Regions from separate parts of the Homo sapiens genome. Here region 1 is linked to region 2. Evidence: fine-mapped expression QTL. A gene starts in region 2. The other region holds a variant in brackets. All regions are shown on one strand. Distances are from middle to middle.

The links.
Region 1: its variant is fine-mapped to the expression of SETD3 in whole blood (INTERVAL, PIP above 0.99).

The regions. Positions count from the first base shown.
Region 1 is chr14:99,413,984-99,429,172 of GRCh38, forward strand. All of the region lies in intron 6 of SETD3 (SET domain containing 3, actin N3(tau)-histidine methyltransferase), which reads right to left. Among named protein-coding and RNA genes, the nearest start is that of SETD3, 59 kb to the right of the region's middle. RefSeq lists enhancers at 1-56, 10,203-11,066, 11,067-11,929. The variant C/T (reference allele first, on the strand shown) is at 8,841.
Region 2 is chr14:99,475,079-99,490,267 of GRCh38, forward strand. SETD3 (SET domain containing 3, actin N3(tau)-histidine methyltransferase) reads right to left here and starts at 5,781. Exons shown (of 13, transcript NM_032233.3): 1 at 5,650-5,781. It overlaps CCNK (cyclin K), which reads left to right and starts at 6,331. Exons shown (of 11, transcript NM_001099402.2): 1 at 6,331-6,401. RefSeq lists enhancers at 4,912-5,413, 6,222-6,591 and silencers at 5,262-5,461, 5,572-6,031.

The DNA.
Region 1 (15,189 bases), 61 kb before region 2:
AACAGAAATCAGTCAGCAGAATTTCATTATTTAGCTGCCTAACAGATCCTAACAAGAGCCAAATGAAGCAGGCGGCGTCCAGCCGCGCTACAGAGGGATCATCGCGCTGTTATGCTCTCATACATCACTGTCAACTTAATTTGTTGTGCCCAGCAGCCGCCATAAATCTGCTTCTTCATATTTCGATACTAGCACCCACAGACAACGCGCAAAACACAATTTAAGGTGGACCGACTTTACAAAAGGCAGGCACGCCTACGCGATGAGCACTGGATCTAAGCAGAAACGCAGAGCCGCCCAAGCCAGGTCCATCCTGGCCCCGCTCTGCACCTCATGCCATGATGTACCGCACAGGCCTTCTGAGAGGGTTCAAATCCCATGTCAACAAAAGGAAAAATTAAAGGCACTCTAATCGGTTGAAAGCTCTTTCATTTCTCTCCGACTTAAGTCATTTCATGGGAATCAACTTGTTCGCACATGAATCATATACACGGCAAATGCGGATCAAGCACGGAAAATCAGGAGAAGTGCAGGTCTATGAGACTATAAAATAACTTCACAAACACATAGGATAACGACAAAACAGATCAGCATATTTAAATTTTACTTCTTTCCTGGACAAAAGAACATTTGGTAAAAATACTAAAACTTCACTTTTATGAGAAAATTATATAGATTTCATATTCTCTCTTCACCACGTCCTCCACTTTAGGCCTTTCAAGCACTTAAAAACTTTGTCTCAATTAAGAAATTAAAAGCTGTAATAGTACAATTTGGATCTTCAGTTTCAATTACAGTCTGATAGATTGTAGTAAGTGATCAAATGAACAAATGGTTATTTCTGAGATACAAATGAAATCCTGCTGAAGCCGGGTCTCCGCACCACTTTTAATGCAGGAAGCTCCATGTAGCCTGCAGTTTTCACTCGTGACGCATTGGCATCACAAGTGCACTGTAATTTATCATCGCTCACTGTAATGTACTCGCTGGCACCCTACGCAGGACAGTAGGGGATGAGGTAAAAGTAGCTAAAACCGTAAATCAATTAGAAAACAAAAGCTTGTGCTCAGTGCGCAATTTTAGGCAAATTATGTATTACAAAAGGCTGCCAATTAAGTGTTAGTTTTGCTAAAGTTCCTTCACTTGCAATAAAATGAAACTTCGCATTACCCGATCAACTGGGAACTTTGCACATCCTGCCTGTTTTCATACTCTAGGAAGTGGGAAAGTGTTGTTTTTGTTATTTTTACGTATTTTAATTCATTTAAACTGTAGAATTAAACTGTAGAAAGTTAGTAAGTTCCAATGCTAAATCTCTAAGTCTAAAAATTTGGAGCCCCCACTAAGAAGTCTGACTTATTAAATGGCAGAAAAGATGACAATATTCAAAACTGGAATGCTAAATCTCAAAATGCTAAATCTAAAAATAACTTCAAGAGTCTTCTAACTCTCAAATTTCTTTAAGTAGCCTTGGACCCTACACAACTATCCAAACATGGGTGATCTCCATCAAGAGATGGAAAATTAACTCTTCAAAATGTTTCTCTTCCTGCTATTCATACACATTTCTTACCCAACATATAAGTCCATGCTCACAGTCCTGATGAAATCATTTAGGGAAAAAAAAAACACTCAAGAAAAAAATGTGTCACTGCATTCTTCAGATTTTGAAGATCATTTTGGCTGCATGGTTACATAATATTTGCAGAATCTGTTAGAAATAGTTCTTATCTTCTTAAGAAATAGGGTGTACACACTGTACATAAATCTGGTTAAAAAAAAGATTCTGCCACTGACACATGCACTTAACAGTGACACTAAAGCAAAATGTGACACTAACGGAGAAAGGAAATAACTCTCTCCACAGAGCTCTCATTACTGTGACACTACTGCCACCTTCTGGCAACTTGGGAGAGTAGATTACAGTCGCAGAGTTCTTGATATTTCCCAGGGCAAGGCCTTTAAAGCAACTTACTGTAAACCAAAAACTGGGCTTATCAAAAACAGCTACTACTTCAGCTTTACCCAACTAAGATTTGGTTTCTAAAAAGAAAAATCTCTGCTGTCTCTAAAAACTATTATATAATAGTTTTATAAGAATCTTGAGACATTCAAATATCAAAAATATTCATAATTAAAAAATATTTAATTTTGAAAATAAATGGTTTTACTTATTCTGAAGAATTGAACAAGGATAAGACAAATGTCTATGCCAAACAATTTTCATTTAAGCTCAATGTATTAAAAACAAACAAAAAAAAACCTTTTTTCCCTGTTGAAGACCAAGTTAAAACACATCTTCCAAAAATTATTAATCTGAAGTTACTGGAAAGTTCCTAAAATATCCTTAGATGAAAATCTTTAAGCTCATACGTTATACAAAAGATAACTGAGCGTTCCTCACTTAATGAAGCAAAGTGGTGCTTATAAAGGTTTTGTTGATTACAATAGCCTTTTCACTAGAAGACATTCCTAGCTTGCACTTTTAAAATAAAAATATACAATTAAAACAGAAAACGTACTCTCTGCAGCCAATTGGTTTTAGCTTCCAAACCAATTGTAACTGTAGATTCCAAGACACAGACACACATGGGATGGGTGAGGAGGGTCCCTGAGAAGCTTCTGCCTGCCACTGTCAGAAAGACGACAGTGAGAGGGCCTCTCAGGCATGGGGGGCCCAGCAGCAGCGGCAATGGGGTCTCCTGAAGCGCTACCTCCCCTCAGCCCACACCTCCCAGTAAATACAGGCGGAGAAACTAGCCACGGATTTTCTCCAGATTTTTTAAGTGATTAATATTTTTACTTTCTTGAGCACAATAAATATATGAAGATGGAGAAATGAACCATTGCCGTGGCTCATAATCAGACCTGAAGCACTACAGAGCCAGGCAACCCAGGGACGCACTCTTCCCCTTCCCTCTTCCAGCAAAAGGAGGCATTCCATGTTGAGACACAGTAATATTGTACCGAGTACAAAATAATCACTACGTTTGGGAAAGATTAATATCTAAAATTGTTTGTTCGGCTTCAATAAAAAAGAGCAATATTGCTAAATATGTAAGTATGACATTTTGAAGAATTTACCATATTGCATGGGTCTGGTAGCTATGCTTAAGGAAATTAAAAACCACTACAGTCAGCATATTTGATCCTTATTAAAGTTCCGTCTTGAACTATCACTCACATAAAACAAAAATAAACCAAGAAGAAATTTAAATAAAACCTATGGATTATAAGTGTTTGAAGATGAAAAAATGAACAATATTCCGGCTTTAAAAAATTGATTTAGCATGCAGCTTCTCTTTATAGTCCCTTGATAAAAATGAAATCTCCCTAACAAACACTTAATAAAACCTGTCGATATCTCTGGAAAGAAAAATGACACAGATGCATTAAGTATTAAATACCCTTGGAAAAAGTCACATATTCCATGAATTTTTGATGTACTATCTTGACATTAATGTAAAACCTTGATATTTATAATTGACAGATATTTAATAAAGTATAAAAGAAGATGGCTGCTGTGCAGCATGCAAATGTTCCAGGGTGATCAGAAATGAGAGATACAGACATGCACTTAAACTAAACAAACAGTTAATATGTGTTACACAAATCAGCTGCAGGCTTATTTTAAGCTCATACAACAAACCTTTGTGGAGAACCAAAATAAGCAGAATTCATTATTATGTGAATCCCTAATTCAGAAACATCTAGTACGTGAAACAGCTTTGAAACATTAACAGCTCTGCACAGGAACAAAATACATTTGCGTTAAGGTTTTTTTGTTTTTCATGTTTTTCAAACATTTAACAATAAGCATTTTTAAAATAAAAGTATTTCCATAAATACATGGAGAGGTGTTTCCTAAAACAATTCTCAAAAGGCCATATTTAACCTAAAGAATCAAAATGCTCTGAAGAAAAAAATATATTAGAACACACAAATGGCCTCTAAGACACAAACATTTCCCAAAATCAGATATTTACTTTTCTAAAGAATATTCTTCTCTACCCAGACTGATTTTTACTTAAAGAAAAACAAGTTGAACATATTAATCACCTTCAATGAGGCATTTAACTATACAAAAAGGAAAGTTGCTCATAGAAATGACTCTTCTAAATACTGTATGTTAAAGAATTTACATCCTGCCATAATGCAAAATTATTAATTTCAAATATATTTATGGAAGAATTCAGTGACTCTGCCCTGTTTGATGACTATAGTATCAGAAATGACAAAATATAATTTAGAAGTTGCACCTAGCTTGTTCTGATAAAAAAACCATAATGCCATGCAATTAAATTTTTCTGACTAAAATCCAGCTGGATCTTGTTTTGCTTCACTCCTTAAGCATACATTAAAAGAGATAGTCAGGGACTATCTCTTTTAATTAGTCAGGGACTAATTAGCCAGGAACAGACACACCTAACTCACGTGATGGTTTCATTTTCCTTCCTTCTGCAAGGATGAGATCAGTCACAAACTCTCACATTTGGCCTTTTAGGGTGGATGCAATTTTGCAAGTTTCAGAAATGTGACCCTATCTCACATAACCAAGAGATCTCTGGTCTGACAAATTCCTGGGCAGGACAGCCTGTGGCATCCTCCCTAGGCCCACTGTGGATCCATGGCCTCAGCAAATACATGTGCTTTGTAAAAATTGAGAAAGCAGAGGTGCAAAAGACAGCTCCATCGGCCCATCCTATAGGCCTATAGAGACCCCCTTCCTCTTCAAAGCAATACTGCACCAATCAGAGAGAGAATGGGAGCAGAGAGAGAGTAAGAAGATGGACATCCCCAGAAGGAAACAGAGTGAGGAGAAATGGGAGAAGATAAACAAAAAGAAGAAAGCTGAATATTGGAAAGATGGAAAAGATGGCAGGCAGGAGAAAAATTTACACTAAATACCTTGAGGTTTCCCCTTTCCACCCCCAAATGCAGGCTCATAAGCAGCAGCATGCAAGACAGCGAGTTTCTAGAAGGCTGATCAACCCGTCTTCTAAGTGGATATAATACAGTTGAACAGAATGACAAATTGCAAAGTATCTCTTGAATTGAAAATTTAGTTTTGATGACCATAAATCAGAATCAAAACATGGTTCACATGTTCAGCTCTTGAGGGAAAAAAATCAATTTTTAAGACTTTTATTTTTAAGCACAGATTATATCCAACTCTTCAGGGAATTTTTCATCATAAAGTTCTTTGAATTCACTTGATATGATGAAATAAAAATTTAAATACATCAATACACACTGAATTAAGATTTTCTGCCTTTCGCTTATATATAATTTTTCTATGACAAATGTGTATCACCTTATAATTTAAAAAACTTAAATTAAGAAAATGAAATTAGTGGAGAAATAACATTGTTCAATAAATTTATAAAATTATGATGGAAGAACTTTTTCTCCCATTGGAAGACAATGAATGTATAATCTACATCCAGTTAAATTTAATTAAAATTTGTTGAAACATGGCAAAAGATACGTCTGTTTAAAAACCTTTTTATGGCCGGGCGCGGTGGCTCACGCCTGTAATCCCAGCACTTTGGGAGGCCGAAGCGGGCGGATCACGAGGTCAGGAGATCGAGACCATCCCGGCTAAAACGGTGAAACCCCGTCTCTACTAAAAATACAAAAAATTAGCCGGGCGTAGTGGCGGGCGCCTGTAGTCCCAGCTACTTGGGAGGCTGAGGCAGGAGAATGGCGTGAACCCGGGAGGCGGAGCTTGCAGTGAGCCGAGATCCCGCCACTGCACTCCAGCCTGGGCGACAGAGCGAGACTCCGTCTCAAAAAAAAAAACAAAAAAAAAAACCTTTTTATTAGCTACCATTTGTATACTCTATGATGGGCAACCAATTATGAACCAAATTTAGTGATAATCAATCAATATTTTTGATCATCAATTACTCAACAAATATTTATTGACTTAGAAAAAAAGATGAAGATAGGTTAAGACTAGAAATTCATTCATTCAACACATACTTCATTTCCTGAGCACCTCCGAAGTGGAAGGCACTGTACATCACTGATATCATTAGGGGGTACTGCCTAGCAGTGAAGACAGATAAGTGACCAAAAAACCACAAAAGGATGGTAGGCAAGGTCATGCAAATCCCTCTTCTTCCGGGCCACCTTCTCCAATCTCCAGGTCCCTGTTGATCCTCCTGCCCTGTTCCTGCCTTTCCCACGCTGGCCTCAGTCTGCCCCTCACAACTGCATGCGCTGTGGCCATTTGATTAGCATCTCTTCCCCTCCAGTCCCCACAGGCAGGCTCAGCAAGGCAGGGACCATGTCTTCTTTGACCCCCTGTGAGTCCCCAGTGCCTTGCTCAGTGCCTCATTCAAAGAATTCCTCTTCTTTTTTAAAATTTTAAAATTTATTTTTAACTACACCTGCTGGAATGGGACAAAAAAATCTTCTTTCTCCAAGTGACAAGATACACTTCTACTCTTTTTCCTGGGACAGCGGAGGAAAGCTATGACTCCAAAGGTGCTGCTGAGAGGCTGCACCAGGGACTGGCAACCCCAGGGGAATCTGATCTCCACATTCCTCTTCAGAAAGCTCCAGCCCATGTGGGCACCCCTGCCACACCAAGGCAGTGACCATAGGCTTCAAAAAACACAGCTTTCCACATCCTTCTATCCTATGTTCCCTCTTATGAACAGAATATTCTTCTACCATCTAGGGGCCAGAGAATCTTCTCATTTTTTTCCCCAAATCTCTCTTTAAACACATTTGAGAAAGCTCTATTCTAAGAATCCAAAGAGAAACAACAACACAGATCAAGCCCACCAGTCCTCTGTACCAAATGGTCACCAAATCTCGCCCCACCCCCAACTCACCCCGAACATGTAGCACACACCCTTCGAAGAGGTGAGGCTGGGAACCTGCCAGGTCATCCAAGCATGCTGCCCAACCACTTGTGCTGCCATTTCCTCACTGGAAAAAGCCAGGCGAGGGCGGGGGGGGGGGGGGGGGGGGGGGGGGGGGTGGGAGGTGCAGACAAGCTACTGCTGTCTTCTTTAAAGACAGTAAATCTTTCGTTTCTTTGCCTTTTGACACTACCTGTCTCCCCACCCCCACCCCCAACATCTCAATCTGCTGACTGACTTAAGGACTCTAAACGATGACCAAGCCTCATTCTCTGGTCTGCAAAAAGTCAACTCCACCAATCGATCAATGCTTATTCAAAAGATATATATACTTCCAACTCCTCCATCTTATTAAAGAAACTAGAAATAAACAGAACGGTAAAAAGTTATTATTTTATAAGCAGGCTAGAGTGTATCAAAAAAGCAGGCTAGAATTATGTATTATCACCAGTTTCATAATATATTGTTTTAGTTTTAATTTCAGCAATTTTGGGTTTCAATAATTCAGGATAACTACGTTGGACTCTGTTTAAATGAGTCAATCTAGTATGATCAGTCATTTACAAGAGTAGTTGTAATCAGTAGTAGTAATCAGTCATTTACAAGAGAATGTTAGGACCACCATAATGAAACCAACTTCCTTTATAAGGTAACTGACATTCAGAATATGTAGATAAACTCCTGTCCTAGAAAGGTATGACCTCAGCTTGGTATATAAGAAAGCTCTCTGTCATCTCCATGAGAAACAGTGGGAGAGGGAGACAGACACTAGCAGTCATCATTTGCTGAGCGCTCTGTGCCGGGCACTCTATCGAGAACTCTATGTGCATATAATTTAATCATCTCAATTCCTATGAAATGGCACTTATTAGCCTCATTCTACAGATGAGGAAACTGAGGGAGACAGACATTAAAAGCGTACCCAAGTTTACCCAGTTAATAAATGATGAGGCTAGGCAACAATCCAGACAAGAGTTTTCTGGAGTTTACTTCAAGGCAGAGGATATCTAGTTGTCCTACTTTTATAAATAGTCTTATAAAGTCTAATAAAATCAATATATTTTTGCTTGGTGAAATTCCAGAAAAATGCTTGGTAAATACTGTTCTCATTTAAAATTCACCATAGAGGTATTATAAAAGGCATTATGAAGTTTAAAGGCAGGCAACATTAGCAAAACTAAGACAGTGAGTCTATTATTTCCCGCACCATCAGAAAGAATACCATGTTTAGCTGTTAAGTCTTCGGTCATAAAATCTCAGCCCTGGATGGTAACTTAGATTACCTGGTCTAATTCTGTTCACCATGCACATGAAGAAGTTTGGACCAGAAAACATATGTATCAAATACATGTATGAGAGAGGTCATATTTGGCATTTTCTTCACTAGAATGATGCCACATCGATGTCCCAACAATTTCCAATATTCCATCATCTGGAATTCTATCATTTTTCTGATAACTCTTAACAGCCTCAAAGACACCCCACAGCTTTGCCAATCATTAAACCACTATATCAAGTTATTATACTAGCATTATCTTTTTGGCTACTTTCAACTCTCCTTATTGTCATGTTGTTAGGGAAATGAACTTTGGTCCCTTAAACATTCTGCTTTTAAGCCTAAAGGAAGTTGAGTAGTCTATGAGGAGCTCATGAGGAATGAGCTCTAGGGGTGCACCACAGAATCTGAGAACCCTTCTCTGTAGACTGTTGGGGTTCTAACAAAGACAAGCCAAATCCTGATGTAATAAGTCAATCCCACTGATTTAGGAGGACTGCCACAATTGACTGAGCCTGAGACAGCCACATTCTCAAAGAGCACCATCTAAATCCACACATCACATACACTGCCTTGTCACCAGCTGCCAGGAGTTTACTTAGGTAAATCTCACTGATAACAAAATCTAAGGTAAAGGTCCCCACTGTACCATACCGGGCTGCTGGTCACAAAGGAGGGAAGTGGGGATG[C/T]AGGGAAGAAAACACAGCTCAAAAACCCTTCCCCCATCAAAGGCTCAGTGTGCGGCTCTGTGGAGCCCCGCGGCCCCCAAGGCGCCTGGGGACAGAGGGTTTGTGGACACCAGCAAGTCGCAGATGCACTGGCTCTGCTCCTCCACCTCAGGAAGCTCAGTTACTTGAGGGAAGCAGTTTCCAGTTATTCATATTCCCTCCTTTTCTCTATTCCCCACGCTCAAAGAGTGTTCAAAAGGTACCAATCAAAGAGAAAATCCGCAACACTGTCCCTGGGTTGTTCTAGATACAGCCAAATTACTGTTCTCACCTACAGCAGGGAGGTGTAAAGGCCTTTCAGAGGGAAGTAACAAAACTTCTTTGTTTATAATATACAGTCACTGAGAAAGAGCTATAGCTCTCAAAATCTAAGTAACCCTTTTTTGTATCCTCTGAGAAGGGAACCCTCAAACATATTACCCTGAAATTTGACAAATAAAATGAATATTTTAACATTACTAGTAAAATGTCCCATTAAAACGGCAACGAACTGAATTATAGGATTATAATTTATTAGAATCAAAATAGAATGGTATTATAGTAAGTCAAGACACTTGAATAACCAAACATAATTTAAAATCTCCATACCTTTGGGTAGAGTACCTGAGAGGTTTGTTATTAAGCAAAACTATTTCATATTATCTTCAGTTGATTTTTTTTAATTGCCTTTCTCATTTCATTAGGAGTCCAAAATAGATACCAGAAGGCTCTTAAGCACTGTTATGCAAAAAAAAAAAAAAAAAAAAAAAAAAGAGCAGGCACTAAGATGCCATCAGTACTTGCTATTTCTCCATTAGCATTAAGATATGTTAGAAAAAAAGTCATTCACAGTACTTCCATAAGTACTGTTAAAGGTACACTCTGTCTTAAACTGAACAGGGTAAAATCTGGAAGAACAAAGAAGCAAGGCCAAATCACACAGAGTGCACCCACCTGTACCTGGTTTCTCTTATGAGAACGGCCAAGGGATATCCAAGTAGCACAAGTTAGAAAATTCAAGTCTGATTACTTCCTTTTTCATAAAAATCATACTTTGCCTTATATTTTCTTCATTAAATGCTCTACTGATCAATAGTGGTAAAATGGATTTCACTCTCTTTTTTTTTTTTCCAGAGGAAATACTATCTCACATTGTTAAGAATGATACCATTTTGTTGGAGCATTCAATTTCTGGAAACAAATTTTCAATGAAAGAATAGTTTAATCAGTGCAGATCTTTTAAGCACTACCTAGAAAACAGGTAATTATTAAATTGTCCACCTGGAATAGAATGCAGGAAATCCAATAGACTGACTTAAGCTATCTTTTACTATAAGATGTTTGACTATAGTCATAGATGAGAAAAGACTTCAGAATTGGGTTTTGAAATCCAGGTCAGCTGACTCCCAACTCGGAGCCCAGAAACTTGGAGAGCTCTTACATTCGGGGGACAGGAATGGTAGGGTCAGAAAAGCCTGGAGATTCAGAAGAGCAGGAAGAACGAAGCAGGAACGTGGGGAGGATGAGGGGACTGGGCAGGGAAAGAAGCCAGACCCCAGGCCCTCCCAGAGGGCATCACACTTCAGGGCGGGGAGAGCCAGGCTGCTGGGGCTGGAAGAACTCTCAGTGTGGAATGTTCTTGATAAATGTTGTGATTAAAGGTGGAAGACAGACAGGACATCATCTCAAAGGCATGGGGGCTGTCTGTAAACCAAGGGGATAAAGCCAGGACAGAAAGAAAGAGTGAAAACACAGGGCCAATGTCGCTGAGCTCCTGACCTGAGTTCCTGACCAGGCCCCAGGGCTTCCCTTAGCTCTAAGGGGGGTCCCTTCCTCAGAGGGAGGGGAGGAGAGGAGGACATAAGAAACCCAGGTGGAGACAAAAGGAAAGGAAGTTCTTGTCACATGGTCTCAGTTTTCTCAGCAGTGCAGGGATGAGGGGAGCCCAGGAAGAGCTGAGACACAGAGACCCTGAATCTGTACCCAGGGAAGTGAGAGAGAAGCCGGTAAGACACAACTGTGCCTTTCTCCAGGCAGGAAGGAGACTCACCGGCCAGGCTGAGAAGGCTAGACTCACCTTGCACTAACTGTTATGGCACCTGGAAACTTCACAACACTCAGCACCCGGGAGCAGAAGCTGAGAAAGGGGATGGTGGGGAGGACACGGGGCTTCGGAGGGTGCCCTATAGAACAGGAGGGATGAGGCAGTCCAGAGGGAGGGCTGATGGACTAAATCACAGCAAACCAGTTTCACTTCTCCCTACTTCTTTTAAATTAAACTGCACCAGACCAAAAGAAACAGGACTATAAATAATAATGGTTAATTTATGCACTGGCACACAAAATAACACTCTAGCAGGTTTGCTGAACTAAGGAGTCCTACCCTCTACAAGATGGTTAGCCAACTATCTTGCCAAAGTCAGAGGTTCAAGGAGGAACTCCGCCATCCACGTGCACACCTTGGTATTTAACTCTCCTAGAGTAGGAGCCACAAGGGGTTAGGCGCATGCAAGAACACGAAAGGCCTGCCAGCGGGCACTGGGAGCTGCCGTGTGGCCCAGCAGAGCCAAGTGGTTAGAGCACCTGCCTGGCATCTAGCCCTGCAAAGCCCAGCGCCAGCTCTGAACCTGGAAGACCTGGAGCAAGTGCCTAAGGTTTCTGTGCTCAGTGGAACATTCTCAGCAAACAGTAAGCAGTCAGTAGGCGTCAGCTGTTATTAGTCTTTAGTTTCTGCCATAATCGCTTTGTACACGGCAGGTGCAGAAGGGATTATCTCGCTCTAAGCAAGGCACTGGCAGATGCCTAGAAATGGACCTCCATTTAAGTGTCAGAAAATAGCAATCCAGCTACCTCTTTTGCAAGAAACATAAGACAATGTGGAGTTTAGATTTAGCCTCCAATTACTCAGGCTGTAAAGATGGTACAGAAGAGAATCTCTTCTTAAGCACTTAATGAATCTACTGCAAAAAGAAAAAAATCTGTTTTCCCATCTGTACTTCCAGACATATATAATAAAGTGACATTTTCCAACATAGGTTTTTCCAGATCATTAGCTTTGTCAGTTAAGACTCTATGCTCAGCAAAATGACCATTATTTTTCCTATTTACCTTTTAATTTCTAAAAAAAACAAGCTGTTGTATTAACCTAGAGGTAATCTTAGATTATTAATCCCTAAAAAAAACTTGGTGTGGAAAACAGTTCAAACCCTCCTCCCCCAAACATACACATTTTCACAACTTTCCAGACTGGAATAATAATCCAATTATTGGAATAATCCGCCCCCCCATCCACTTAGCCAAATCCTAAGACAAGGTTTAAGATTCCTTTGCCTTCAAATCTACATATGACCTCCAGTGACCTCTAAATGTCTAACCCATGCAGTCTACAAAATACCACGTAGCACTCTGGTTTATGCCACGTGAAATTGCTCCTGAGTTGCTTCATGGATTTCATTCATTCATTCACTCATTCAACAAATATTCACAGCACCCACTCTGAGTGAAGTGGAAAAGCAGGGAGCAAGACAGACCTGGCTTCTGCCCTCACAGATCTTCCTGTCTGCTGGATGGTGGACACTGACAAATAGTCACAAACAGGAAGGAAGCAACAACAGGGAACAGGTGCTGGGGTGTGCAGAGCACGGAAAGCAGCAGAGCAGCTGAGGCCTGAATGTGGGGAGAGGGCGGAAGGGGACCCAGCAGAGAGAGTCCTTAGCTCTCCTGCTGGACCTGGCAAACAGAAGGTGCTGATAAATATGAACTGACTCCATATTCACCATTGCCACTTCCTATTTTCCCCAGAAGTCATAATCGTAGGTTGGAAGAAAAGTAAGAGACTGCCCATCTAGTAGTGATCACTGACCAACGTGTAGATTCCCTTTAAAATTTGCCCTTTATTTTTTAAGGTGTCCTCTCCCAGGGGGGAGCATATTTAAATTCACACCAGAACGGCCTGCCAAGCTCAGAAAAGCAAGTTCCCAGGTTCAGTTCCTAGGTTCAGGATCATCCCAGCCTCCAAAGTGTCCACTTACACCTCGCTCGGCCAACGAGGGCAGAGGCCTTGCCTTTCATATTTACCTACTCCCCACCTTCTGCCTCCCCCACACTGCATGCCCCACATGCTGCAATCAGTAACTCAGGTGGGGACGCAGGGAGAAGCAGGCGGTGATGTCAGGGTTTTACTTGGCAGGCAAGAGAGCGTGGGGGGCAGCTGGGGAGCATCCGGAGCGCCTCCTGTCATGTTCCTATGACGAGGCTGCTAACTTTCCCAAGTGTGGTCATTTTGCAAATTAACCTTTTAGCTCGAAAAATAAAGCTAGGTACTTCAAATTATTCACAGAAACTTAATGGTGCACATGATGCTGACAAGGAAAACATACCTTTGTATTACGAAACAGACAACTTCTCCATTTGACTGGAAGATGCCCACTGACTTTCAGTGAAAATACGTTACCCCATCATAAGGATAACCAAAATAACCACATCTTTTAGCCTTTAACTGCTTAAAATATATGCCCATGTTTTAAAAAACAGGACATAATGAAATAAATGTAATATTTACTGTGCTACTCTTGTGAGTAAGTGTGAAAACTGTAGGATGAACTATATCTGCAAAAAAGTAGGAAAAGGAACAGGTGTTAAACTTTCAAGAAAGATTTTGCTTAATCTCAAAAGTTATCAAAGTAAAATAGCTATTATTTTATAGAAAACGATAAAGGAGGCCAAGGCATAAAGTGGTATAATTTTATCCTTGATGTACTAATGCACATTTCTGCAGCTTCAGAGCCACTTTAATCTCATCTTAAAGCTTCCCAGCAAAGCTTCGTCCGTCAACTCCCCAAACCTGCACTGTGTGTCTGCTGCGTGCAAGGCATTGTGGGGGGACAATGAGCAAGATGAGTTCCCTGCTTTTAAGGAGCCAACGACTTTGGAGCAGGGAGCCCAGACAGGCAAACTGTGACGTGTCACACCAGGATACATGACACGTGCTGGAATTCAGAAAAGAAGCTGCAGTCACTGTCGGGAAGAGGGGGATCTGGCAATGACTCACAGAGGAGGTGGCATGCGAGTTAAGTCTCTAAAGATGGGCAGGATTTTCCATGTGGGAAGGGAGACATCCCAGACAGAGAGTACCGGAAATGGCAGAGGCAGGGAAAGGAGGGCTTGTTAAGGGAAGCTGAGCAGCTGGGGTTTGCAGAATCGATTGGCACACAGAGGGATGAAAAGGTGCAATGCCAGTGCAGTCCCAACACATGAGGCCCTGCAGAGGGTGGCACAGTGCCCACGGCAGGAGCATTAGAGTATTAGCTATGTGGCCCCAAGCAGTGCTACCCATCTGGTCTGTTACTTCACATGTAAAATGAAGACAATCCCTGCTACCAGAGTTTGCTGGCACTTGAGAGGTGTCAGTAAGTTAGTATCCATCCAGGAACAAGGACTTTGTAGACACTGAGCACCCCCTGGTCTTCAGCATTTAGGAAAAGTAATCTGCCAAAGGATGAATCAAAACAAGTGGTGGAGGGGTTGGGTGCAGTGGCTCACACCTGTAATCCTAGCATTTTGGGAGGCCCAGGAGGGCAGATCACTTGAGGTGAGGAATTCGAGATCAGCCTGGGCAGCAGGGCAAAACTCCATCACTACCAAAAAATACAAACATTAGCTAGGTGTGGTGGCACACACCTGTAGTCCCACCAACTCGGAAAGCTGAGGTGGGAGGATTGTTTGAGCCAAGGAGGTGGAGTTTGCAGTAAGCCGAGATCATGCCACTGCACTCAGCCTGGGTGACAGAGTAAGTCCCCGTCTCAAGAAAAAAGAAAGAAAAACAAAACAAGTGATGGAGGAAGTGAGAAAATGTGGGGAGGGGGTAGGTGAAGTTTGAGAATCTGATAAAATCTATGGGCCTGATGTGGCAAGGAACTGAGGGTGGCCTCTAGCAACTGCCAGCAAGAAACCCAGGCACTGATGAACTGAAGCCTGCTGCCAATCACAGGAGTGGGCATGGAAGGCACCCTTCCCCAGTCACACCTTCAGATGAGACCACACCCTAACTGCAGCTTTGAGAGAGACCCTGCAGCAGACAGCCCAACTAAGCCATGCCTGCCTTTCTGACCCACACAAACTGTGAGATAATAAATGTGTGTTTTAAGCCTCTAAGCAGCAAAGAAAAAAAAATTTTAATTATGAACTTCTGGGTGTACTTCTCAAAAAAATTCACACAAACATATGACTATTAGTCAAGATGGGCTGGAATCTGCCATAATACGGTGTCTCCAGGAGTCATTTCTCACTCACTGCATGCTCCCTGGGTGCTGCCTGTGCCTCTGCTCCATGG
Region 2 (15,189 bases):
ATCATTTCCTATTATATCTTTCTAAAATAAAAAAGACAATGTTATGTGTGAAGAAACAGCTGTAATCCGTCAAGAAATTACCTTCAAACCACCCACATTCCTTAACATGAGGATTCTGGATTCTAAAACCAAGGAGCAACAGGATTAGAGGAGACCTCTGGGGTTATGTATAGTAGCTCTCAATCCCACGCGTGTTTAAGATCATGGTGCCGGATGTTATGGAGCAGTCACGATCAGTACTTCACCTGATCCAAGTCTGAGAAGGATATAAGACAGGCAGGACAGAGAGAGCGTGTTATTCCTGATTAACAAACACAGCCTAAGGCAGATTGCCAGTAAGAGAAAAAGGCAGCTCCAAAGCTTCGCCTTTAGGCGGCCAGCAGAGCTGCACGTTCACTTCCAAGGCAATCTCCTGCTTTGTGAGCCCCTCCAGTACGATATTGCAGAGAAGTTCACCATCCTCTCTGACCTGTCAGCTTTTGTGTCTCCCCAAAGTTTTGTCTTCTCCAGGCTTAATGTGCCCCTCATTACTACATATTTCTCAAAAGTGAGCAAAACCACTTAAGCATATTATACTTCAATGAACTGTTTTTTTTTTAAGTCAACAAAACCCTTCAGATGTGCTCTGAGATGGACTACCCACCTTCCTGGAACTCAAAGAAATTTGACTAATATTCCTAAGACTGCCCTAGCTTTTCTATGAGCCCAGTGAATTCATTCCCTCATTCCTGCACATTTCCTGAGAATCTAATCTCAAACACAAAGATGATGCAACATGGTCCCATAGCCTTTAGGACAAGACAGTAATCAACTAAAGCCTTTCGTGATCTTCAGCAAGATAAATGTGCTATATTCAACAACTGAGTTTTTGAACCTAAATGCAACTATTCATGCTGTCATGTTATTTCAGGATCATCCTTGCCATGTCCTGTGTCCTATGGAAGTTCTCCAATATGATCGTCCCCATCACAATCATGTCATTTGGGCATTTATTATATGATCAGGAATTGAGGTAAGCATTTTACACAATATAAGATAGGTATTAACAAGTCCCCTTCACAGATGAGAAAGCTGACGCTTACGGAGACTGATTAATTTATGCAAAATGATAGACTCAGTTTGTGTCAGAGCCTCACCAGCACACCTCAATGACAAATCTTACTGATAATAATATTTCATGAGTTCGGCTCAAAACCAACCCATTTATGAGAGCTCCAAAGGTTCACTGTTATCGCTAATATTCAAAATACTATTCCCTTGCACTGATAAAACATACGCATGTAAAGGTTTTATTTTTTGGCCTTTTAAAAGTATAGTTATTTTGCTGGCTTTGTCCAAATACATAGGAGGAGCTGCAGGTTAAATTTGGGACATGGGCAAAACTTCCAAAAGAGCTTCCATCCAGTCCACCATATCTGCAATGCCACATTTTTGTTGCAGGGAAAAACGCAGAACCATGAGGTGACCATGACATGCAGCGAAGCTAAATTTTTACAAACAACAAATCAAAAATGTTATTAGACACTAGTAAATATTTTATGGTAAAAGCAGCTTTTATAAGTATTTGTCAACACTAATCTTTACTTCCTCTCAAATATGTGTAATAGAAAACTGCTGATATTGAAAAGGCATGTCTATTTTCTGAGACTGAACATTGTAAACCATTTAGTCGGAAGACTTTCTTAGACCTGTTATGTCCTGATGAATTGTATTCTTAAAAAATGGAACGTGAAACTCAGGATCATAGACAGTAATAAACCTAAGTGTATATTTTATTAAGAGTTCTATGTATCATATATTTTTGTCAATTAAAAACTAAAAATAAAAAGTTCCGTGTAGACACTTGATTATCTACATTCTCTAGACAATTTTTTTTGTCCTTCTAAAAAACAGTGGAAACATTTCTTCCTGCTCTGTCCCTCTGCCCTCCCCTACTTCCCCATCCCAGTACTGAGGTTAGGCTTGCAAAAGGCTAATGATTCACTTTGGCTTAGTAATCAGTAGATCCCTTTCAAAATCTTAACTTCAAAGATAGATGTGTCTTTCATTGTCAACCAAGACTGTTTGGACTCACTAGTTCACTTCTACTTGGAAAGTACTTGATAGAAGAAAAAAAAAATTGCAAAGTCTTAACTTTGGTATTTGAATTTTATAATCATTTGGAATCAGTTTTCTTCCATTCAAATTTATCTCAGTCGAAACTGTTCAATATCTGTGTTTTTATCTCGTTTTTACAGTCTGTTTATATCCAAAACTTAGAGGAGACTCCCAAGTGGAAACGGGGTCAACACAGCTAATCTCTGGCTTGAGTTAAAAAGCAAGACTTCTTAATCTTGCAGATGCTAATTTTTTTTTCAAAAGACTATTAAGTAACTTTTTAAAAAGCCAAGTCTCAGCCCAGTGCGGTGGCTCACGCCTGTAATCCCAGCACTTTGGGAGGCTGAGGTGGGCGGATCATCTCAGGTCGGGAGTTCCAGACCAGCCTGACCAACATGGAGAAACCCTTTCTCTATTAAAAATACAAAATTAGCCAGGCGTGGTGGCGCATGCCTGTAATCCCAGCTGCTCAGAGGCTGAGGCAAGAGAATGAACCCAGGAAGCAGAGGTTGCGGTGAGCCGAGATCACGACATTGCACTCCAGCCTCGGCAACAAGAGCGAAACTCCATCTCAAAAAAAAAAAAAAAGCCAAGTCTCAACTTCTTTGTAATAGGAAAATATATTAATATATATTAATATTTTGATAGAAATTTTTTACCTTGAGAGTAAATATTATGTAAATTAATTCTATTTGCATATCAAATTAGTTAACCTCTCCAATTTATGAATAGAAAAATGAGATGATAAAAGGAAATCCAATGACAGAAAACCATTGTAAAGGCAACAGAAGTGAAAACTATAGAAAACTGAAAAAGCAAGACTCTTTATTCTAATACTCTCGACTGGTTAAATATGACCCAAAACAAACTGTTAGCCAGATAAACACTTCTATGACTATAGCAGGAGAGAAAAGATGCACGGCTAATCAAAAGATTTTTCACTGATAAAAAAAGGGCCCAAAAATAAGGGTAGGTAATTGAGAAAGCAAATATTATAACTGGCCACAAGCAACATCCAAAGTAACATAAGAATAAAGATAAGTTCACCGTTCTGTTAAAAACATTTAATGCCATAGCAATAAATGACTCCGAGTTCTCTTTGAGGGAACAAAGTCACCACTCCATTCCCAGGACTTCGGTCCAAGGGAAAGAAACACACTTGAAACTCTTCCTCTCCACCCTCAACAGAAGCACAAGGCACAGCAGCCAGGGAACAGGCAAACCAGTCTCTAAAGATAAATAACCTCTCAGAGAAGGATATTCATCCAACTACACAAAAGAAAGATACAGTATTACTAGTTACAGTTCTAAACCCTACTTCGGATTTGTGATAAGAAAAAAGACTCTATGTAATTAAAACATTGAAGAAAACTGGTACGCCTCAAACTACACTGACATCTAGTCACAAAGCATTCAGAGTAACCCTGACTTGGAGGTAGGATTTTTGCTCATATTTTTACTACAACTCTACACAGCACAAACTATGCACCTGGTTTTCATTGAATTCAATGATTGTCTACTAAATATTCACTCCAAGCAAGCCTCCGTCGCTGATGGTCATACCTTCCCCGGCGCCGTCATCCTGTCATTCTCCTCCAGGCAGGAGAGTACTGTGTTCCAAGGAGGCTGTTGTGACCGTTTATCAGAACTCTCAAAACCAAAACAGTTGTCCAGTGGTTAAGCTTTAAATAGGAAAAATATCACCTCCATATTTTTCTCATTATCCAGTGGCTTCTAAAGCAAAAGCTTAATTATCATTTAAAATGTGGCCTAAATGTCCACGGCACGGAAGAGCAGCGCAGCAGCCATCACTTTCTTACTGACAGTCACTGTGCTCTTACGAGAAGCTTTCGCTATAACCGTACATACAGACATAAGATGTTCTAATCTTCAAATCCAACACCACTCCAATTCCAGGAAAAAAAAGCACTGAGATGTTAGCACACTGGAGAAGCAACCATTTTACTCCTTCAGACTACAGTTCCATTTCAGATATTAACTTACAATCACTTGGAGGGCAGACAGGAAAGGGGTAGCAGAAGGCTAAAATCCAAGGTTGTCTGGGGTCCCAATAAAGAGGTTCTGTAGCTGTTTGAGAACTTGGCTTTGCAAACTACTTTCTTAGGCCGAAGAAAAACTCCTCGGTAAACTGTTGGAATTTCACCAAAGTATCAATCACGGCAGCCCTTGGGACTAATCCAGTACTGCTGGACTTTCACGCATGGTAGCCCGTATAAACACAGTACATACAGCAAGGTTCAAGCAAGTCTTGGCAAATTTTAACAGTGGAGAGGAAGACTGCTTTATTTTGCTATATTCTTGGGTTAAATGTATTCGCTTAAAATAATAAACACTTCTCCGAGATTATTACTGGTTAGTTCAGTTTTGAAATACTGGCAAGGTCATTTCAAGAAGAAAAACGGGAGAGGGAGAGGTATATTTTACATAAGATAAAATTCACACTTTTCAGTGTCCGGTTCTGAGTTCTGACAAACGCATTTATAGTGGCCTCATCAGCACCACAATCAGGCTACGAAGATGGGGTAACTCTTCGAGGATTCTTAAAAGCAAAATTGATTTGTCAGCATACTTTAAAAGTATTTTTGCTTTTGAAACATCACCTTATTTATTTAGAAAAGCAAAATAACACGGTCCGAGTGGTCCTAACCCGCGAATGCCTTTGCAACACTGAAATGCCCTCCTCCCAACACCGGCCGGGCAGGGGTGAGCCCCGCAGCCAGGGGCGCGCGTCACTGTCAGCTCCTTTTCCCAAGTGGAGACCGGGAAAAGACAAGAGTTGCATCGCCGGGCTGGAGCCACGAGGAGGAAGAGTTAACGCCGGAATGACAAACTCTAAAGCACCGAATTGCCTCTCCCTAGTAGGGCACTGCGCGTGTGGAGCACGGCCAGGGGCGCGTGGGAAGAAAGACGACCTATTTCCTACGTCCGTCTTCCTAACTGGACGGCGCGGGAGGAGGCGGGGGCTGGTCCCCGGGCACCCTGGTGGGCACCGAGAACTCGCAGAGAGGAACATAAAACCGCACAGCCTTCCCCGAGCAGCGGGGTGACGGGAGGAAGGAAGGAAATGGGAGCGCGACCCGGCCGCGCGCAGAGCCGAGCCGACTAGCGCGAGGGGCCCGGGCCCCACCCGAGAGCAGGCGCGAGGGCCGGGGACAGCGGGGCAAGCTCGGGGAGAGCGCTGCCTGCACCTGGCACCACCTCGAGACCGGGTGGCGCGGGGCCCGGGAGCGTGGGCGCCAGAGGGGACAGGGCAGCGGCGAGCGCGCGCCTCTCGCCCCGCAGGGCGCCCGGGCAGAGGCCGACCGGCGCCCTCCGACCCCGCCGGGCCCTCCTCGCCCTGGCCCCCGAGCGCACACCTGCCCCTTCAAGCCCCGGGGCCACAGCGGCCGGCGGGGACCCTGGCGGGGGCGCGGGCCGGACTTCGGCCGAGGGGCGCTGGCCAGGGCGAGGGACGGCCTCGCAGAGCTCGGAGACGCGGCGCGAGTTTCCCCCGCGGGCCGCGCGGGCGCAGAGACCGCCGCCAGCACTCACCTGCCCGCTTCCCCTAGCGCAGCGGGAACGACGTACTCCGGCCCGGACCCCGCCGTCCGCCTCAACCAACCCCCAGGCGGTGGCGGCGGTGGCGGCGGCGGCGGCCGGACGGGAGGGGCGGGACGGCAGCCTGAGACGGCCCCGCGACCGCGGCCCAACGCTTCTCCTCCCGCCCCGGACCCCGCCCCCGGGCCGCAGCCGCCGCCGTTCATTGGCCCACGCTTCGGACGCATGGGCGCGGCCCCGCCCCGCCACCCAGCCGGCGTTCCGTTCGGGGTCCTCCCCAGCCAGTGGGCTGGCAGCTCCCGGGGGCAAGAGCGGCCGGCTCAGCCGCCGCCAACCACGATGTCGCAACTGGCTGCGTTCGCCCCCGCCAGAGCTTTGATTGGACGAATCTCGACCCGGGCCCCGCCTACGCGCCCAAGTTCCGTTAGCAGGTTCGGTTGCTCCAGAATGCCTTTTCGCCCCGAGGGGCGGGACCGACGGGATGGGCCCTGTGGCTGGCTCCTCCCTCTGTAAGCAGCAGCCACTGACCCGCGGGGCGGGCGGGGAGGAGAGCGGCGGCTCGTTCCTCTTTTGAGAGCTCTGCTTTCTTCCCATTGGTTGACAGGCATCCTACTCTCTCCGCCCCTCCGGTCGCTTGGTGGCGTCTCAGGACGCAGCGTGATGACGTAGGTCCCCGACATTCCATATACAAGATGGCCGCAGTCGGCAAGGAGAGACGTCGCTGAGGGGCTTGCCTGAAGCGAGGGGTGAGTGACCCACCGACTGAGGGCAGCGCCGCCCACCTCCCGCGTATCTGGAGGTCGGAGTAGGTTATGGCCAACCGCCGCTATCCACTGGCGGAGTCTCTCTTTCCGGATTCTGCCTCCCTCCGCTAACCTCCGGTACACATTGAACTTTGCGGGCGACGCGGGGTTGTGGGGCGGGCGTGTAGAGAGGGTCTGAGGCGCCGGGGCGGGGCAGGGAGGCCGGACTCACCCTAGAACTGGTAGCGGCCCTCGCACTGGGGGGCAGTCAGAGTTGGGGAACTTTCTAGGGGTTGGGCAAAAGGGGCAGCGGTGTTAACCGCGCACAGTCTCACAGCCACAGACTTCTCATATCTCCCCGATTATTTCGCGGCGTATTAGTCCCAACCTTGGCTAGGCCTGAAACTTTTTGGAGGTTGTTCCATGTCTAGGGTACTCCGACTTTGGAGTTTTGGAGAGCCACGTAACGAGGGTGCGGCTAAGATGAGGAAAAGGCACTTCCGGGATTAGATTTCGTTCTTGCCCAGACATCGTCTTTACGGACCCGCTCCTGGTGGTTGATTTGGTTTGTTATGAGAGAAATTGTTCTTTAGAAAATTGGAGCGTAAGTCTAGAGGTTATGTGACAGCTCCTAAACGATTGTCTGCCCAAGATAGGCTCGGTAATGCTCCCTAAATTTAGACTGCCAGTTAAACGGAGCTTTCGCTAAGTCATCTGAGGTTAGGAACTATTTCTAAGAGCATTTCTTAAGGGTGGTCTTCTGTGTTTTTAAGAGAAACTTGGTGATGTTTGTGTATCTCGATCTAAATCGCTGTTTACAGATACCTAGCACAATGCCTTGCAGTTGTAGGTGCCCGCTAAAGGTTTGTATGAATGATGTTGCTAGAATGAAAGCGAGGAGCTTTCAGCGCCTAGAACACTGCCTGACGTTTAATAAGCCCTCTGTATTGCTGAATGAAAGAATGGATGGATGATGGTAGTGGTAGTAGTATTGATAGACATTTGGATTAAAGTGCCCTTAGGATGCTTACCTGTTAAATAATCTTGACTATGAATATAATAATTATCCAAGATTGTCTTATTCAGAGTGACCACCGCTGGTGTCTTTTAGGGTTTTTTTCCCTCTTTTATCTCATTTCGATTATATTGTGATGCATTATTCAAGCATATTAGTTGATTTCTGGGCAAATCCTGTTTAAATTTGTTCCATTTTGAAAATGTAGTTTGCACTAACAAGCAATAAAAACTATTCGAGTTGTTAATGAGGTTCTTAAATTTTAAATGCTGTTTCTAAAATTGAATGTCATAAAGAAAAATTGGTCATAGCTGTGGCCTATAAAATGGGCTAGTTCATTTCAGGACATTATATTTGAAAGCAGTGACTCTGCTGAGTGTCTGAAAGGGAGGACAGTGTTTTCTGCTTGTTTTCTTTAAAATTGGATAAGGACAAAAAAATCTAGAGGAATTAAATTCAAGGTAATTGAGGAGATTACAGAGTGATCATATTTTTAAGCTCAGGTAAATTGTATACCAGAGTATTTGCAGATGACTTTATAAAATCGTTATTCTTAGATTTTGAAAAATCCTAAAAGTACAGTTAATGATAGAAGACTAGAATCTGGTAAATGTCTGTTTTCACATAGAACCATTCGATGGCTCTTGGCTACTAGGAACCTATTAATAATCTGTTTTAGAATCTTGTTGGAAGAGCCAACAAGTTTATGAGTACTTGGGAAAGGAGAGCTGATTCCCTGAAGCCAGCAGAGCTTCAGTGAGAAAAGGCCAGGTGAGGCCAGAGGTGGTGGCTCACGCTTATAATACCAGTACTGTGGGAGGCCAAAGCTGGAGGATCACACAAGCTCAGGAGTTCAAGACCATCCTGGGCAACATAGTGAGACCTCACCACTACAAAAAAAAAATCAAAAAATTAGCCAGATGTGGAGGTGCATGCCTGTAGTAGCTACTTGGGAGACTGAGGCAGGAGGATCACTTGAGTCTGAGAGATCAAGGCTGCAGTGAGCCGTGATCGGGTGACTGCGCTCCAGCCTGGGCGACAAAGCAAGACCCTGTCTCAAGAAAAAGCCAGGTGACACAAATCATATTTCCTTTTGTTACAGTTTACTAGACTGGTGGTGATTGGGGATTGTTGGACATAAGTTCATTTAAGTTTATTTAGGACATAGTCTTCCAACAAGATTCTAATACTGTGTGTAGACACAAGAGTTAAATGTGCATTGGATAAGGTGTGGTTAGATGGATTTATATCCATGCAAATTACCAAACCCGAAATGTTGATTAATGAGTTGATGTAAGCCTGGGGAGATGTCTTTGGAGATATGCTACAGGACTCTGGTCTTGCCCTTACTCGGATTAACACTTTCTTAATACCAACTTTAAATAGATAAGCAGCGTGATTCTCAAGTTAATAAATGCACTCAAACCATGTAGTGATAATGAGCAAATTAGATGACACTCAGAAATCAAAGATTTCTTAAAGGCTGAAATATAATAATAGGCCAGAACTGGCCAGATATAAATTTACTAGGTGAGATTGTCTCAAAAAAAATAAAAAATAAATAAATTTACTTGGTGTGATTACATTTACAAAACCTGAGTTTTCCTGGCTTGACAAAAGTGGTTCTAGGATGTAACATTCCACTTAAACAGAAGAAAAGCAGTGTCTAGATTGAGGGAAGGCAGTATCTTGGTATAAAGTAAGACTAGTTGTGATGCTGCTTGCTAGCTGTGAATTAGTCAGGTTGTTTCGTGTCTCTGGCTCCATTTTCTCAGTGATAAATTGTGAGGATAAGAAAACTAGCTTGCAGACATGCTGCAACGCAGCAGACACACAATGGACATGTTACTGCATGTTAGTTACCACCCCCCTCCCATGTGCTATGCACATCATATCTGTTTTGATTCCTAATATTTAGGGAGGACTTGAAACACTAAAAAAAAAGAAAAATCATGATGAGAAAAATGGTTAGATTTGTTTACCCTAGAGAAGAGAATGTAAAAATTGCTTTTACCTGTTTGAAAGACAATCAATAGATAAGGGAAATGTATTTTCAAGGCTTAGTTTAAGGACCCTGGTAGAAGTTAAAGAGTCGCTAAAAGGTAGATTTCATTCATGCATTATTTTATGCCATCTGTGTAGCAGATCTAGGGGATGAACAGGACAGATAAAAATCAATATAGGAATACAGGAATTATGTGAACACCAGTTATTGATACCCAGCAATGCCATAGGCTGTTTTGTAAACTAATGAGGTTTCATTGATAAGTGGCCAAATATTACTAAGAGGGGATTTCGATATTGGGTGAGATAATTGAGTGGTGACATTTACTATTGTTTCCATAATTCTAAATGTTGAAAATATATTTAGTCTTTTATGATGTAAAATGATATTTATGAAGCACATTCCTGAAAGGTGCTGCTAAAATGCCTTGACAGGTTGCTTGTTTATGGATTTTCATTTTGCAGAGTTCATAAATCTCAGTCATTTTCAGAGGAATCACAAGCTACTAATGAGAAAACTTACAACTTTAGGGTCTTGTGAAAAAATAATTGAAGAGTAATAGGGAACAGGTTTATAGACCTGAGGCAAAAACTTTTTCAGGGAGTTCTACGATTTTGAGGACTGTCTCTATTCTGTTTATGTCCATAATATTTTCACTACATTTCATGAATTGTTTATATTCTGCCTTGGAACCTAAAGGGACCAGGAGTTTGGCCAGTTACAGAAGGTAAAACAATTGAATATACTTACGATTTATCCGCTTGTGGACCGAGGTTCTTTTCCATTCCAGTTTCATCCCTACTGGGGTATTCCTAACACTGTTCCCCGTTCTGCCCCTTTCCCCTCAACAGATATCTTGGCATTATACTTCCTAGAGAATATGGAGGTACTCTTGAGATTTTTTAGTTACTTCCTCCCCCTTAAAAGATTATTTAAAAATATCTTTCTCAAACTTTTCCTTCCATTCTCAGGGGAAGAAAGAGCTTTCTTTCTAAGGTTAACTTTCTTGCTGTGCTTTTTATTATCCCTTGACCAGTTAGCCTCCCTTGTTCTGACTCCTCTAGTGATTCCTTTTTGTTTTTACTGGCTGCAGACATTTTTCATTCTCCTTTATGCTGAAAAATATATAAAAACCAAAACAATAACAAAACCTACTCCCTACTATTCCCTGTTACTCTCTTTGAGAACAGATGCCTCAAAAGAATAACCTATTTCCAGCCAGGCACGGTGGCTTATGCCTGTAATCCCAGCTACTCAGGAGGCTGAGGCAGGAGAATCACTTGAACCCTGGAGGCGGGAGGTTGCAGTGAGCACCACTGCATTCCAGCCTGGATGACAGAGGGAGACTCTGTCTCAAAAAATTAAAAAATGAATAAAAAAGAATAACCTATTTCCTAGTCTGTTCATTCTTTACCACCCCTTGCAGTTTCTACACCTTCTGCCCTATTGCACTTCTAAAAATGTTATTTTATTTATATGTGTATATATGTATTTTCTTGAAATATAATCCTATACCGTACAAATTACCCATTTAAACTGTACAAATCAGTCGTTTTTAGTATTTGCAGAGTCATGAAACCATCACAATTTTCAGTGTCTCTAATAAACAACTAATCACCAATTAAAGTAAACTTTCCTTAGTTCCTTGTCCTTTAACTTTTCTTTAGCATTTGTCACTGTTGACTACCATCTCTGGTTTAAAGCTGACATCCCATGGTTTGTTTTGCAACAAAGGATGCAAATTTCCCTACTTCTTGGACCAGTCTTTTTCCCTTTCTCTAATTTGGTGATTCTTAGTCTGCAAGTGGGTAAATCATAAGTGCATTCAAGTCTGTTTTACCTTCCTGTCACTGGGCAAACGCTCGCCTTTGGTGATTCTTCCTACTTGGTACAAGTTCACAGAGTTCTGTACCCAGACCCCTTCCTTCTTCACTCTCCATCCCTCCATCCGTCAACATGACTTTATAGTTATCACCTCTGTGTAGATGAACCCCAAGTAGATATGTTCTGTAGAGACTTCAACTGGCCTATTTATCTGTCTGATAGATATTTCCACAAAAGGATCTTAAAGTTCTTCAAGCTTAGTATTTATAGAGCCAAATTCTTTTCCTCCCTCCTTATCAAAACCAGCTTTTTCTCTTGTCTTATCCATTTGTCTTTTTAGTATCACCCTCTGTGTCAGTCAAACTTGAAATCATCTTTTTCCATTCTTTGCCTCATGGCCAATTATGACACACACACCCCTTGTTCCAGCTGCCATTGTGTGGAGACAGGTGTATTAGGCATTACTTGAACTGCTACTATAATCTCCTAACTCTTCCTCTTTCTGCATACCTCTAAACAGCCCTTACCTCATTATGTTCTCTCCCCTTACATGCGTTATTATTTGTGGCACTTAAGATTCCCTGACAAATATTCATATATTTCTTTCTTATTGTCTCTCCCACTAGAATGTAAGCTTCCTGGGGCAAAGACCTTACTTATCTTGTGCCCTGCCATGCCATTAAGGCCTGGCTCATAGTAAATGCTCAGGAAATATTTAAATGAAAAAGTACATGGAAAACTGTTAGGCGTATGTATATTAAAGTAGCAATTCCCAACTGTGAATAAATTGCTAAGATGTGCTAAGATATTGATTCCCTCAGCCAACTGTCCAGTTGCCTTCTGTTCTATAAGAATATATGTACATGTTTAACACTTATTAATAATCAAACACCAGAAACATTTACATGCCCAAACAGTAGAATGTATAGATAAAGTGTGTTGCATTCATAGGATATAACTGTACTGTACAGCAGACTTTCTCAGCTTTGGCACTATTGACATGTTGGACCAGATAATTTCTTGTCATGGGGGATTGTTCTGTGCACTGAGGACATTCAGCAACATTCCTGGCCTCTACCCACACTAGATGCCAGTGGCAACCCCCCAGTTAGGAAAACCAGAAGTGTCTTCAGACATTGCCAAATGTCCCCTGGGGGGCAAAATTGTCCCAGGTTTAAAAACCACTGCTCTGCGGCAGTGAGAATGAACAAATACTGCTTTATGCAACAACAGGAATGAATCCCATGAACTTAATATTGAGCAGAAGAAACCAAATGTAAAAGTGGTACTGTGTCATCGCACAGTCCTTCAAAAACAGGCAAAACAAATTGATGGAAATAGAGGTCAGAATAGTTATCTTTGGGAGGATAGTCACTAGGAAAGAACGAAGAGAGCTTCTGGAATGTTGGTACTGTTCTCTTTCTCAACTGAATAGTGTTAACACAGGTGTGTTTACTTTGTGAAAAACAATCAGCCATACACTTATAATTAGTTCACTTTTCTTTTTGTATGCTATAATTCAAATCACAGTGTTGTAATTTATGAAAGCAGTACCCACACATAAGCAAGTATTCCTTGGCTATCGAGGGATTGATGAAGATAAGGAGTCCTCCTGGTCTCCTATTCAGTCTCATCTGACTTTTTCCCCAACTTTTTATTGTATGAAAGAATAGTGCAATGACAACTTATTTACCTGTGGACACATGTTCGTTTTTTGCCATGTTTACTGTGTGGTTGTGTTTTAGCTGAACCATTTGAAAGTAGGTTGCAGACATCATGACACTTTACCCAAAATACTTCAGCCTTCATCTGCTAAGAATAAAGTCATTCTCCTGTGTAATCACAATATCATTATTACCCCCAAAGAAAATTAACTGACAGTAATTCCCTCCCTAATACCCTCTAATATACAATTTATACTTAAATTTTTCCAAATTGTTTGAAATTTCTTTTTTTTAAAAAAAAAAAAAAAGCAGGATCTAATCAAGGTTCACACATTGCATTTTGTTGTAGCCCTCTTTAGCCTTTTTAAATCTAAGACAGTCTCTCAAAATGTTTTTTCATAACACTGTTTTGAAGAGACCGGGTCAGTTGTTGAGTAGAGTGTCTCACCTTCTGGATGTGACTGATAGTTTCCATGTTGTGCTTTTTTCACTTACTCTTGTACCACCAGTATTTATTGTAAACTGGAAGTTCGGTCAAAAGTTTGCTTAAATTTAGGTTAAGCTTTTGGGGGACAAGAATACTACATAGGTAGGTGATATTTATTTCACATTGCATCACATCAGAAGCCATGTAATGTCAGGTTTTCACCCTATTAGTGATGTCAAGTGTGATCATTTTGTTAAGGATCAACTGTATTTTTTTTACAGTAGTTAATATCCATGCTAGCAAAGTCGCATTTATTATCAGTAGCATTTTATTATCAGTAGTTATCAGTGCTAGCAAAGTATTATTCTCTATATGTATTAATATTATGGACACTTGGATTGTATGTTCACTATTTTATGATCAACCACAGTTATTTTTCTTTTTGCTATTCAAATTACCTTGGATTAGTCCAGTGGGCACCCATCATGGTGGCTCCTATGTCTTTTTTTTTTTTTTCCCTAGCAAATCATTCCTTCAGCAGTCCTATGTCTTTTGATAAGCTTTGATTAGTCTGAGTACATCCCAGGCAGGCTCCAACCCCAGACTGGAAAGAAACCTGCTTCCTTTTAGAGGGTATTGGTATTGAAAAAGTTAAGATTTCAGAATTAGGAGTGTCATTCCTTCTTGGTACTTGAAAAGGACAGAAATGGGATACATATATATATATTTTTTTTTAACCATGATTTATTTTGATATCTTCAGTTAAAGTTTAACATTACAGATTTGTTTCTTAACATTTGGTTTTCTGCATGTGTGCATTTGTTTTCTTTGCACTGAAAATCTTGGTTCCTAACAACATTAGCATTTACATATTTGCTTTATTCCACAACATGCAAAAAAAAATGTGTTTGAAAATTACAACATTAATGACACTACTAACAGTACACTAATGAAGTTTTAAAATTTCGTTGGGGCCAGCCACTGTGGCTCATACCCATAATCCTAGCACTTTGGGAGGCTAGGCGGGAGGATCGCTTGAGGCCAGGAGTTCGATGCTGCAGTGAACTAGGATCATGCCACTGCACTTATAGCCTGGGTGACAGAACAAGACTCTGACTCTAAAATAAGTAAGTAAGTAAATAAATAAACAAATAAATAATTCTTTTCAGTTATTTTTGTCCTTAGAATATATCTCACTAAGCATGTAACAATATCAGAAATTACTTGGAAGTAAGTTTCTGTGTGATTTTGTTGCCCATTTGGTTTGAGTTTTAGGATTTGCTTTTTTATTTTTAGTTAAGTGTATGAGTATGTTAAATATTTACATGATTCAAACATCAAAGTTATAAAAGTACTCTGCAGGGAGTCAAGCTGAAAGAGCACCTAATGGCCACATTGGAATAATTTGAGCAACAAAATAAATAATGATAGTATTGGATTATAACCCAAAGAATAAAATACTCATGTCTGTACTAAAGTAAATAAACAAATGGGAGAGAAGAAACAAATATTAACAAAATGATTCCAAATAATAAATGTTGAAGCAGTGAAGGAAATAGAAAGTCACCATTAGAACACCACAGTTGTAATCGTCTCAGGTGAATGCTAAAATTAGTAGATGAAACTTGAAGGAGAAATAGACATTTGTATAGTATTTTGCATTGTAAAATATTTCCCCCAAAATATTTACTTACTAGTGGGTGGTTTTAACATATGTCCACAATTTCTTTGATATCTCTGCCTCCAGAAAGTAGAGCTTAATTCCTTTACCCTTGAGTGTGGGCTGGACCTCGTGACTTGCATCTAAGGAATAGAAGATAGGAAGGGAAAAATAATAATTTACAGTGAGAAACCTG